3 separate regions of the Homo sapiens genome follow, and regions 1 and 3 are each linked to region 2. Evidence: fine-mapped expression QTL. A gene starts in region 2. Each other region holds a variant in brackets. All regions are shown on one strand. Distances are from middle to middle.

Evidence for each region. PIP is the estimated chance that this variant, and not a neighbour inherited with it, causes the effect. A credible set is the group of variants that fine-mapping cannot tell apart.
Region 1: its variant is the best candidate, but not a certain one, in a credible set for the expression of ZZZ3 in whole blood (TOPMed, PIP 0.83).
Region 3: its variant is the best candidate, but not a certain one, in a credible set for the expression of ZZZ3 in lung (TOPMed, PIP 0.50).

The regions. Positions count from the first base shown.
Region 1 is chr1:77,555,584-77,559,935 of GRCh38, forward strand. AK5 (adenylate kinase 5) reads left to right here. Exons shown (of 14, transcript NM_174858.3): 14 at 3,019-4,352. The coding sequence ends at 3,087. Among named protein-coding and RNA genes, the nearest start is that of ZZZ3, 120 kb to the right of the region's middle. The variant C/T (reference allele first, on the strand shown) is at 1,905.
Region 2 is chr1:77,680,693-77,684,692 of GRCh38, forward strand. ZZZ3 (zinc finger ZZ-type containing 3) reads right to left here and starts at 1,966. Exons shown (of 15, transcript NM_015534.6): 1 at 1,893-1,966. RefSeq lists enhancers at 2,022-2,101, 2,919-3,692, 3,122-3,221 and silencers at 2,482-2,901, 2,912-2,971.
Region 3 is chr1:77,768,670-77,773,021 of GRCh38, forward strand. No RefSeq gene overlaps it. Among named protein-coding and RNA genes, the nearest start is that of MIGA1, 8.8 kb to the right of the region's middle. RefSeq lists enhancers at 1,350-1,579, 2,060-2,249. The variant G/A (reference allele first, on the strand shown) is at 2,537.

The DNA of each region.
Region 1 (4,352 bases), 120 kb before region 2:
CTGGGATAACAATACTTCTAAGATCATTGATAGGATTACTTTGGTTATTTAAAAAGCATTCCTGTGCCATTACTAGTAATATTTATCATTTTAAATGATGACAATTATTACTTTCCTCAGAAAGCTTCTCTGCCCTCCCCACATTATGGAAGGTGCCCTTATAGCTCCTGTGCTTATCTCCTAACAGTGTAAATTCCTGTTGAATGTTCATCTCTACCACTGAGCGTGAGCTCTTGGAAAACAGGACCATTGTTTCTCGTTCAACTTGGTTAACTGCAAAACATTGATGATAACCAGGAAATGCTTGTTGGTTGAAAGGAAAAGAAGAAAGAAGTAAAGCAATAAGCAAGGTGCTGTGGGGGCCATGAACATGGCAAAGGCAAAGCCCCTACCATCCAGATGTAGAACCTGTAGCTGGACAGACAAATTGCAGATTGCTATCTTTGAGTCTCCTGTAAGGATGAAGTATATTTATGAGAGGGGAAAAAGAACTTTAAAAAAACTTATTTTTTCCTTATTGTGGGCTATATCATACATACAGGAATGCATAAAAGTAGTATGTAGAGTTTGAGGAATAAAATGAACACTCATGTAACCACCATGCAGGAAAAGAAATAGAAGAGAGTTGCAGAAGCTCCACCCTCCCCATATGTCTCCCCTGTCACAGCTTCCTTCCTCTCCCCAAGAAGTAACTCATGTCCTGGATTTCGTGATAATCATTTCCTTGCTTCTCTTTATGACTTTATTGCCTATGTATGGATCCCTAACCAATATAGCTTTGTTTTTGAACCTTATATAAACTGAACCATACTGTATTCATATTCTTGAGACTGGCTTGTGTCTCTCAAGTTTGTGAAATTAATCCATGTTGTTGAAGATAGCTGTGGTTCTTTTTCTTTTAATTACTATAGTATTCCATTATATGACTATGTCACAATTTATCCATCTATTGCTAATGGACATACAGGATTTTTCCAGTTGGGGAACGACAAACAGTGCTTCCGTTAATATTGTTGTATCCATTTTCTCCACTATCTGAACATGCAGCATTCTTTTTGTTGATATTGTTGAGAATTCACTCTACCTCTGGAAGCAGTGAAAGCCCTAGGGGAAGAAAAATTCAAACTAGTTTGCACAAAGAAGATTTAAATAGGTAGACAAGAGTCTCAAAGTGTGCTTGTAAATGTGTGTTTGAAAACTTTGTGTTTCTCAAAGTGTGCTCCAAGATGGCCCACAACAAAATCATGTGGAGAATTTGTTAAATATACAGATTAAAGACCCAGCCCAAACCCACCAACCAAGACCCTCTGCAGTTATGGCCTGGAAAGCTGTGTTTTAGCAAGCTTACCACCGCCCGCCCCCCACATGACTCATGTAGATCACCAACCCTCTACCTTTTTTTTTTCCTTTTTTCGTTTGTTAGCATTTAGTTAAGCTCCCTCCTTGTGGCTTGAAGCCACCAGAACACAGCCTCCCTACCTCCCCCCACATATACACCCTTAATCTTCTCCCAGCTCTCCTGCCGAAGAACTTGGCCTTCGTGACAGCAGGCTACTTTGGGAGTTTCCCTTCCTCAGAATTCTGCAGTAGCCCATAGCACTCCATCAATGATGGGAGCAGCTCCAGCCTGTTTTATTTATTATTATTTTTTTTTGTCAGCGTGTGATTACTCATGTCTCCTGACTGACCAAGGTCCACATTTGTCAAGGTCAAGAGTTGGGCAGAAGCTCTGGTTTCTCTTTAAGAGGTAATGCCTCATAACCAACTTTACCAAAGTAACCTGGGTGACACTCATGGAAGTTGATGCATACCACCAGCATTTCCCTGGCCTCCCAGGTGCTTCCCGTGCTTGGCCAGGCCTTTACTTTCTGTAGATGATACAGGTGTAATGGAACAAATCTCAG[C/T]GGTGGGTGCGTTAGGAGAGGAGAAGGGGCAGTACTTTCGTGCCCAGAAAATCAGCTTCCCTTCATATGTCCTCCTTGGGCTAGCATGCCAACAGTCTCCAAGCGGACTCTACCTTAGCACACCTACACACTGCGGTCCTAGTCTTTTGCTTTCTTCTCCACATCTCTCTCCCTCATCCCTCAATCTCTCCCCTATTCCCAAATGCTGCAGAACACTCAGAAGTCTCATTTTAAGTAACTCCGAAGTCTTTCCATGACCCCTAGCAATGTTTTACCTAAATAGGCACTTATTGTTTTAAATAGACTTTCCTTTTTAGAGAAGTCTTAGCTTCACTGCAGAATTGGGCATAGAGTTCCCATATACTAGTTACACTGCTCTAAAAATCCTGTGCTCTACCTACTCATCCCACCCCCCACCGCCCTCTGTTCATCGATCATTGATCTTTTTAAACCTGCCTCCAGTTTTGACTTTTCCAGAATGTCATATAATTGGAACCATACAATATGTACCCTCTTCAGAGGAGCTTGTATCACTGAGTAATATATATTTAAGTTTAGTGCTGAATAATATTCCCCTGTCCATCTGGATATATCAGTTTATCCATCCATTAAAATACTGAAGATCATCCTGGGTGCTTCCAAGTTTTGTCAATTATGCATGAAGTTGCTGTCAACATCCATATGCAGGTTTTTGGGTAGATGTTCAGGTTTCAGCTCATTTGGGTAAACACCAAGAAGTGCAATTGCTAAAAAGTATGGTAAGAGTATGTTCAGTTTAAGAAACTGCAGTGTCTTCTGAAGTGGGTGTACCATTTTGTGTTCCCACAAGCAATGAGTGAGAGTTCCTATTGCTCCATGTCCTCACCAGCATTTGGCGGTGTCAGTGCTTTGGATTTTGGCTATTCTAATAGATGTGTAGTGGTACTTCATTGTTTTTTTAATTGAGACACCTAGTTTTAAAACTACTCTTCACTTTTTTCTCTGTGTTTTGGGGGGGGTCTTGTGTTTTAAAATTTTGCAGAGCAAATTATGAGCAAGTGATAGTGTTCTTTCATTATTAAACATGATTTACAGATATTTCAGACTAACTCTCTTTTTTTCCTTTTAAATATAGATAAATGCAGAGGGAACACCAGAGGACGTTTTTCTTCAACTCTGCACAGCTATTGACTCTATTTTCTGAAGGCAAAAATGCATGTTTGTTAGAATGGAAACAGAAAAACATTAAAAAGTTCATTCCTTAACACAATGTTTCAAGTTAAACCTTTTGTGTCACCGCCCCCACCAACCACCACCTCCTAAATCCTGACAGCACTGTTTGCTTCCCAGCTAGACCTGTGTGAGAGGTGTCTGGAAATCATGCATGGTGTATTTGGGACTATATCAACCTATTCTCCACACTTCAGACAACTGTCTGCACTCACGGCACACACACTTTGTATCATGCAGGCCACACTCAGAGCTAGTCAGTACATGAACAGTGGTGCGGTGCCAGTCTGTGTCCGTTGTGATCACAGGCCTTGCTAGACCCTGATCATCTGGTTCTCCTCTCATTAAGCATCCCTAACCCCCAGTCACACCTTCCTCTTACATACTGTTCCCCAATGGAGGCCCCTGGCATAGGGGACAGCCCTGGGCATCTTCCTTTGGTGTCTGGCTGTTTTGTCAACTCTCATCCACTGGTGGCTCAGAGCCATAAGGTGGGTTGATTACACAATGCCTTGTACATGATATAGAGGCATCAAGCAAGTAAAATTTGACAGAAATTTTAAAATATGAAGATGTATAGCTTTCCCAAGATGATGGTAAAACCCAGGTTAGTCATCAGTAACCTTCTCTATTATTATTATTTTTTAGAAACTTGGAATACTGTCGTCATGGCTAAGAGAACAAATCTGATAAATTGTGTAACCTAGTCTCTTCTCTACATGGTGATGCATTTCAGCAATTATAAATTAATATAAATGACCAAAAGTAACTTAAAAGCATGAGATATTTGCTATTTCATTCATTGGGCACATATCAAATTATAATTTTGATTTTAAATGGTCACCCATGTATTTATTTGTTGCCAAGCAAGTAAAAAAATACCCTAACAAACCTGATGTGGGTGGGAGGGGCATGTCAGTAAGTGGTGTGTTCAATGTGTTTGTTTCATATGGGCCCTTTCCAGGAGTTTGCAAACCTTGTCATACCCATATGCAAAACTGTGTTTCCTTGCATTAAACCAGTGAAGTTTGGGTTCTCTTTTGTGCTATCAATCAGTTGTAAAATCAGAGCTGCTTATATATTCTACTGGAATAACTGCATCTTCCACTCAGTCACTACAAAAAAGCATAGTTTCAGTTTGCATGAATTTTTTTTTTTTTCTTCAATGGCTGTGCAGATAAGGATCCATTTCTGGGATAGAATTGTATTTTTTAAGTCATTTTTTTTTCTTGAAATGGA
Region 2 (4,000 bases):
GAGATCACTAAGTTGCATGGTCAAACTATCATTTTAATCACAGTGATAAACTTTTAAAACGTCTGAAAAACTCCTATATAGTTAGGTTACAGTTTAGAATATATAATATATAAAGTTAAATACATAACACACATTAAAGATAAAAATATAAAACTCAAGTGATAAAACATTAATTTATTTAAATCTTGTTTTACATGTACTTTCTTTCTGTGCAAAGCTACCAAGCACAATAAATCAACTTTACTGCAAAAATAAGTTACTTGTGATATTTTCACAAGATTATACTACCAAAAAAATCAGTACAAACAAAAAAAATCTGCGTAAGTATGCATACGTAAGTCTTGACAAACAGGCATATATCACTAAATAAAAATTTAATTTAGTTAAAAAATGTTTACTGATTGCCAATATTGTGTTGGTACCCCATTAAAACAACACTTTCTCCCCTTCATTTAAGAAACAAAAACTAAACCAAAATATGGAAATATCTGGAATGATACACAGCAACCACAAAGGCTGGTTACAGAGATTTAAGACTGAGGAATGGAACTTTGTGGTACCGTGAAACAAGCACTGTGTTACTCTATACTATATACCTCTCTGTATTATGTATAGGAAAAAAAAACACTTTTGTAGTTTTAAAAAACAAACTATGAATAAATTAACTAGTCACCTGATTCGTTTTGTAATTAACTCCCCACTCCTTATTTAGTACTGCAACTACTAAATAAAATCCAAATACTACTTAAGAATACGAAAAAACAAAGGTATACTGTAAATTCACTTCTGAGACATTAGGGAATTGGAGAGAAATATTAAATTGATTTCAAACTCATTTAAGAAAAATAAAGCTCAAACTCTGATGCCAAAATTTATGAGTTTGCTCTTTACTAAAAAGTTGACCTGAGGCCGGGCGCGGTGGCTCACGCCTGTACAGTGCTGAAATCCCAGCACTTTGAGAGGCCAAGGCAGGTGGATCACTTGAGGTCAGGAGTTTGAGACCAGCCTGGCCAACATGGTGAAACCCCGTCTCTACTAAAAACACAAAAATTAGCCGGGCGTGGTGAAGCGCGACTGTAATCCCAGCTACTCGATACTCGAGAGGCTGAGGCAGGAGAATCGCTTGAACCCGGGAGGCGGAGGTTGCAATGAGCCGAGATCGCCCCACTACACTCCAGCCTAGGCGACAAGAGCGAGACTCCGTCTCAAAAAAAAAAAAAAAAAAATCACATGAAACAGTCTGTTACCTTAAATATATAACCTAAAACAACCATCCCTAAACTTCAAAGATGGCAACCTCAGTAACACAGTAGTAATTAAAACCCTACCGATAACTGAGTTAATAGGCACGTACAAAATGATGAAAAGCAGGATTTTATTCTGACCACAGGTGTTGTCAGAGACATAATGGGCCCTCCAAATACTGCCAAAAGTTACTGAAAATACGAAGTCAGGGTGATGAGTAAATGACACCCAGAGAAAATAGATGGGAGGAGTTCTGTTTCAGGAGACTGGAGTCAGGTACTGCAGCAGAAAACGCGACACAATAGTTAACCGGTCTGGAATACTTTAGAAAATGGCAAGAAGGGAAAAACTGACAAGAACATCTTAAAGTAAGAGGAACGGTATCCAATGGAATCATCAGGTCTGCGCGAGCACGGCTCCCGGACTTCCAGTGAGTGGGACAGGGTGGAACTATCACTGCGTGGGGAGAAGGACCTGGCTGAGGGGTGCATATGCTTTTGCAGGTGGTGGAGCGCCCGCAGGGGGATGGGGAGGGCAGTGTTGCCTCAATGGGGTTACTGTATTCCCTTCAAGACTATGGGAAGCTGATGCAGCACGTATCCCGGCACCAAGAGGCACTCGCCCCGGGCCCCTCCCTAACGACTTGCCTTGTAGAAAGAGTTGCAGGTCCCAGGCCCCCGGAACCCAAGGCTCCGCCATCCAGGACAACTGCTCTGCCAACGAGGTCCCGCGAGAATCGAGAGATCTCGCGATACAAACCCACTCGCATCTCGCGAGCTTCCACTAGACCCAACATGGCGGTACAGAAAAAAATCAGTATTTCGGAACTTAAAAAGCACTTCACTAACGGAGTAGTGAACATTTAAAACACTGAGACAGTAGGAAGTCTTTCCGCTTTATACGTCTCCTCCTTTCCCCTTGTACAGAAAAGCAGAAATCTTAAAAACCTCCGATTACCACGATTATACTACATAAACAGAGCGCAGTGCGCTGCCCCAGGCAGCCTCCCTGTCACGTGGAAACATTTTCGGCGTGCCCGTCACGTGGGCCGCTACTGAGCGAGCGCGCTCCCGACGCCCTCCCAAAAGCCCTCCCCGCCCCCCCTTTCGCCCGCGCACACGTGCGCGCGCACCCCCGCCCCACGTGGGGGCTTCGCCGTCGCAGCCGTCGCAGCCGTCGCAGTCGTCGCCTCCAGCCCACCCCCTCCCGGTACTTGGCTCCAAATCCGGGTCCCAAGCCGATCGTTTCCCACCCCCATTCCCTCCCCCTTCATTCTCCCTCCCCCGTGTCTGGCCCTCACCACGTGTCCCGAGCTCTTGCTCACCTTTCACGCGGGGTCGGACGCAACGGGCCACTTGGGGAGGCGCCGCCGCCGTGGCCGCTCTCCGCCCCCGCCACGGCACTTGCTCGGGTGGCCACCGCTGCAGGAAGCTCGATAGCGGCGCCGCGGCGCTTCCAGGTGGGTCCCCGCCTCCCGCTCCTGCCACTTCCCGCAGCACCAGCGGCTCCTTCCGGTCCCCTCCTTTCTCCTCGTTGGGACTGGCGGGCGGCGGCGGCGGCGGCGACCGCTGCTGCTGCTGTTGCTGCTGCTGCAGGCGCGCTCACTACACCGCCTGCTGGTAACCGCGGCCCGTGCAGCGCCCGCGGGTCGGGCGCCGCCGAGGCCCTCCCCGGCCAGTCCCTGCCCCTGGGCGAAGTTTGGTCTTCCGAGGGCGGGTTGCAGTCCATCCCTTGCAACCGTCCAACCTGGCCCTAGCAGAGGAAAGGCGTCCTCGTAGCTCCGCCATTGGAAATCGGCTTCATCCTGCCCTTTGTGGCCTCCTGAGAGATTTGTAAACCCCACCTCCCTTAGCACTGTGGTCTCAAGCCAGGAGAACATCCATACATGTATTTATGATCGTGCTTCTGCCTCGCCTCGTTCACCTCTGGCTTGTACCACAGCACGCAGGCTCGAACCACTTCGGGCCTTTGTGCTTGCCGATTTCTCTGGCAGAACATTTCCTCCAGATTTTTTTTAACTCCTCGATGTTCGATGCATATTTCAGGTCCCTTCTCAGAGGGCTGCCCAGACCACTGTATCCAAAAAAAGTACACCTGCACCATTGCTTTAACTCTTCACCTGCTTTTATTTCTTCATAACAGTTACAACTTCCAGACCTTATTTGTCAGTATCCTCACCACCAGAAATGTAAAATTTTTAAAAGCAGGGACTTAGTAAACTGTTTTGCTCATTGCTGTATCCCCAGAATTGTGTCTGGCACAAAGCAGTGCTCAGTAATATCAAAACAGATCTACCAACTATATTGAGCATGTAGGAAAATAAAGCCCAACACACATTAATGAAGATAAATAACTTCATCATTTATGAGCTGTGGAAAAACAGCTAAACCTCCTTCCGTGGCTATAAAGATTATGTTCCAAAAATATAAAATCCAGTGGTAGAAGCCGTTAACTGGGGCTCTTCTTTGACAATTGTCCAGTGCTGTTTCATTACTTTTGTTTTCCTTTGCAACACTATTTTTTTTTTCGGGCAAGTGGATACGTGTTGTGCCTTCTTTTATGTTGCTAATAAAAGTTATTAAATGTTTTAAATGGTGTTTTGTATTTTAGCTTTGAGTTCAACTCAAAGTAACATCTACTTCAAGAAAAAGGGTTACATGTTTTTAACACATCAAGTATTTATTGAACATACTAGTGTTTCTGGGTGGCAGTATGTCAAAAAAAAACGGGGGTGGGGGAGGCCGGGCGCGGTGTC
Region 3 (4,352 bases), 88 kb after region 2:
AAATACCTTCCAATAGAACACAGATGTCTCTCTCTCTCTCTCTCTTTGAAAAAGGATCAAACTGGGAGGATAACTTGAGGTCAGGAGTTCGAGACCAGCCTGGCCAACATGGAGAAACCCTGTCTGTACAAAAAATACAAAAATTAGCCGGGCATGGTGGCATGTACCTGTAGTCCCAGCTACTCAAGAGGCTCAGGCGGGAGGATTGCTTGAGCCCAGGAGGCAGAGGTTGCAGAGAGCTGAGATCACATCACTGCACTACAGCCTAGGTGACAGAAGGAAACTCCGTCTCAAAAATAAGTAAATAAATAAAAATAAACAATAAAAATAAAAAATAAATAAATAAATTTAGAACATTTTCACCATTCCCGAAAGAAACCCTGTATCCTTCTGCAGTCACTTAAATTTCCCCTCAACTCTCCCAGCTCTAGGCAATCACTATGCTGCTTCCTCTTTGTATAGATTTGCCTATTCTGGACATTGCATATAATTAGAACCATATACAATATACAGTCTTTGTAACAGGCTTTTTTTTTTTTTTTTTTTTTTTTTGAGACAGAGTCTCCCTCTGTCGTCCAGGCTGGAGTGCAGTGGTGCAGTCTTGGCCACTGCAACCTCCACCTCCTGAGTTCAAGCCATTCTCCTGCCTCAGCCTCCCAAGTAGCTGGGACTACAGGTGCACACCACCATGCCCGACTAATTGTTATATTTTTAGTAGAGATGGGGTTTCACCATGTTGACCAGGCTGGTCTTGAACTTCTAACCTCAAATGATCTGCCCACCTCCACCTCCCAAAGTGCTGGGATTACAGGCGTGAGCCACCGTGCCCCACCTGACAGGCTTCTTTACTTAACATAATGTTTTAAAGATTCGTCCATGTTATAACATTTATCAGTTCATTATTCCTTTTTATGACCAAATAATATCACATGAATATATCACATTTTATTTATTCATTCATCAGTTGATGGACATTTGAGTTGTTTCTATGTTTTGGCCATTAAGAATACTGCTGAGGCCGGGCGTGGTGGCTCACATCTGTAATCCCAGCACTTTGGGAGGCCGAGGCGGGTGGATCATGAGGTCAGGAGATAGAGACCATCCTGGCTAACACGGTGAAAATCTGTCTCTACTAAAAATACAAAAACAAAATTAGCCAGGCATGGTGGTAGGCGCCTGTAGTCCCAGCTACTCGGGAGGCTGACGCGGGAGAATGGTGTGAACCCGGGAGGCAGAGCTTGCAGTGAGCCGAGATTGCACCACTGCTCTCCAGCCTGGGCAACAGAGTGAGATTCCATCTCAAAAAAAAAAAAAAGAAAAGAAAAATGCTGCTAGGCAAGGCACGATGTCTCACGCCTGTAATCCCAGCACTTTGGGAGGCCCAGGCTGGAGGATCACTTGAGGCGAGGAGTTTGAGACCAGCCTGGCCAACATGGTGAAACCCACTCTCTACTAAAAATTCAAAAATTAGCTGGCATGATGGCGGGTGCCTGTAATCCCAGCTACTCGTGAGGCTGAGATGGGAGAATCACTTGGGCCTGGGAAACAGAGGTTGCAGTGAGCCGAGATCGTGCCACTGCACTCCAGCCTGGGTGACAGAGTGAGACTATGTCTCAAAAAAAAAAAAAAGAATAATGCTGCTATGCATATTCATGTACAAGTTTTGGTATGAACGTATGTTTCATTTCTCTTGGGTATTACCTAGGAGTAGAATTGCTGGACCATATGCTAACTCTGTATTTAACGTTTTGAGGAACTGAATCTGTAGTATTTGGATATGTACATACCACTATACTCTGAATAGATGTTCTAAATTAGCATCTAAAACCATACTTTGAGTTCTAGATGCCTTGGTTAGCTTAGTTCTGACTCATAGAAGGGTCCTGTAAAATACTTTCAGAGGTTAGTGAGACTAAAGCTATAATGGCCAATATGTGACCTATAGCATTGTATATATTTGAAAGGAGGCCCTGAGGTATTTCTGGGGACTGCCAAGTTTTTGCAGTTAGTAGAAAAAGTAATTGGAGCTACAAATTACCTAAAAGTGTTCATCTACTTAGGTGATATAATTGCTTTTACAACCTCAATGTGCTAGACTTCTTTCTTCAGGCTTAATGTCGTCACTTGATAAATGTTGTTTCCACTAATCAATCATTCATGAAGTACATTGGCCACATATTGTTTCAGATGGAATGAGCAGTGACCCTAACTATTCTTAGTTTTTTTTTTTTCGAGACGGAGTCTCGCTCTGTTGCCCAGGCTGGAATGCAGTGGCGCGATCTCAGCTCACTGCAAGCCCCGCCACCCAGGTTCACGCCATTCTCCTGCCTCAGCCTCCCGAGTAGCTGGGACTACAGGCCTCCGTCAACACGCCTGACTAATTTTTTGTATTTTTAGTACAGACGGGGTTTCACGGTGTTAGCCAGGATGGTCTGGCTCTCCTGACCTTGTGATCCGCCCGTCCTCGGCCTCCCAAAGTGCTGGGATTATAGCTGTGATCCACCGCGCCCGGCCGACCCTAACTATTCTAAATAAA[G/A]TATCAGATATACCCAACCAGTGCAATTAAATCTGACTTTGATGCTGGGCACGGTGGCTCACGACTGTAATCCCAGCACTTTGGGAGGCCGAGGTGGGCAGATCACTTGAGGTCAGGAGTTTGAGATCAGCCTGACCAACATAGTGAAACCCATCTCTACTAAAAATACAAAAATTAGGGCCAGATGCGGTGGCTCATGCCTGTAATCCCAGCACTTTGGGAGGCCAAGGGGGGGCAGATCACAAGATCAGGAGATCAAGACCATCCTGGCTAACATGGTGAAACCCCGTCTCTACTAAAAATACAAAAAATTAGCTTGGCATGGTGGCGGACGCCTGTAGTCCCAGCTACTCGGGAGGCCGAGGCAGGAGAATGTCCTGAACCCGGGAGGAGGAGCTTGCAGTGAGCCGAGACCACGCCACTGCACTCCAGCCTGGGCGACAGAGCGAGACTCCATCTCAAAAAAAAGAAAAAGAAAGAAAGAAAAATTAGCTGGATGTGGTGGCATGAGTCTGTAGTCCCAGCTACTTGGGAGGCTGAGGAAGGAGAATCACTCAAACCCAGGGGGTGGAGGTTACAGTGAGCCAAGATTGTGCCACTGCACTCCAGCCTGGGTGACAGAGCGAGCGAGATTCTATCTAAATAAATAAATAAAAACAAGTCTGACTTTGGTACCTTCTGCATGTGGCTCACTCCTAGATGCTGGCTCTTTTCTTGTCCCTTTTGTATGTTCCTCAATGACTGTCTCCTTTGCTGGGGACCTCTTACTGTTTCATTCCCCAATCCTGGACAAAAAAACCTGTGGCTGAACATTTAGATGGTCAATTTAAACCTGGTTTGAAGATACAACCTTCTAATATAATTCAAGCCTGGCTACATTCTGTGACACTCACATGGTCCACAGGAAAATTTTTCTTGCAAAGTTGCAAGTACAGGCCCCTTCTGTTGTAGGCCTCTCTCTCTCTCTGTTCTGCCATCAAAGGCTTCTCTAGATAGCCTATTGCTTTTAGACTTTTCCAGGTAACATAAATCCAGGGCACAGAGTCAACCTGTCTGAATTTCTTAAAGTTCCTTTACTTGGCTTGAGGTGGAGATGGCGTGGGATAAGCACTCTCTTCTTCCCACTCCTGGGGAAGGGGAACAAAAATGCACAGCACTCCAGAAAACTGTCTCCCAGGCTTTTTTTTTTTTTTTTTGAGACAGGGTCTGGCTCTGTCACCCAGGCTGGAGTACAGTAGCACGATCTTGGATCACTGCAACCTCCATCTCCTGGGCTCATGCCATCACCCTCCCATGTCATCCTCCCACCGCAACCTCCCGAGTAGCTGACACTACAGGTGTGCCCAGCCACACCCAGCTAGTTTTTGCATTTTTACAGAGACTGGTTTTCATCATGTTGCCCAAGCTGGTCTTGAACTCCTGGGCTCAAAGTGATCCACCTGCCTCAGCCTCCCAAAGTGCTGGGACTACAGGCATGAGCCACCAAGCCTGGCCCTTCCAGGCATGTTTATTCTACAACCTTCTTTCATCAATCCTGACATATCATTCCTGGGAGGTGTGTGAGAACTGAGGATTGCTAAACTGGCTTCACAGTCTTCCAGCATGTCCTATGGGGATGGTCTGGCATCCTCTTTTAGAATGCTCAGGGTACTTCACATTTATTTTTCTCAGCTTTGGAGCCTCTGTTAAAAGACGCACTGAAGGGTCTCATTTAATATGCCATATATCTTAGAAATATGTGCCAGGATTGTTCTATGTTCTTTTTTTTTTTTTTTAAGGTGTGCACTTTTATTCAACTGGTCTCAAGTCAGTATAC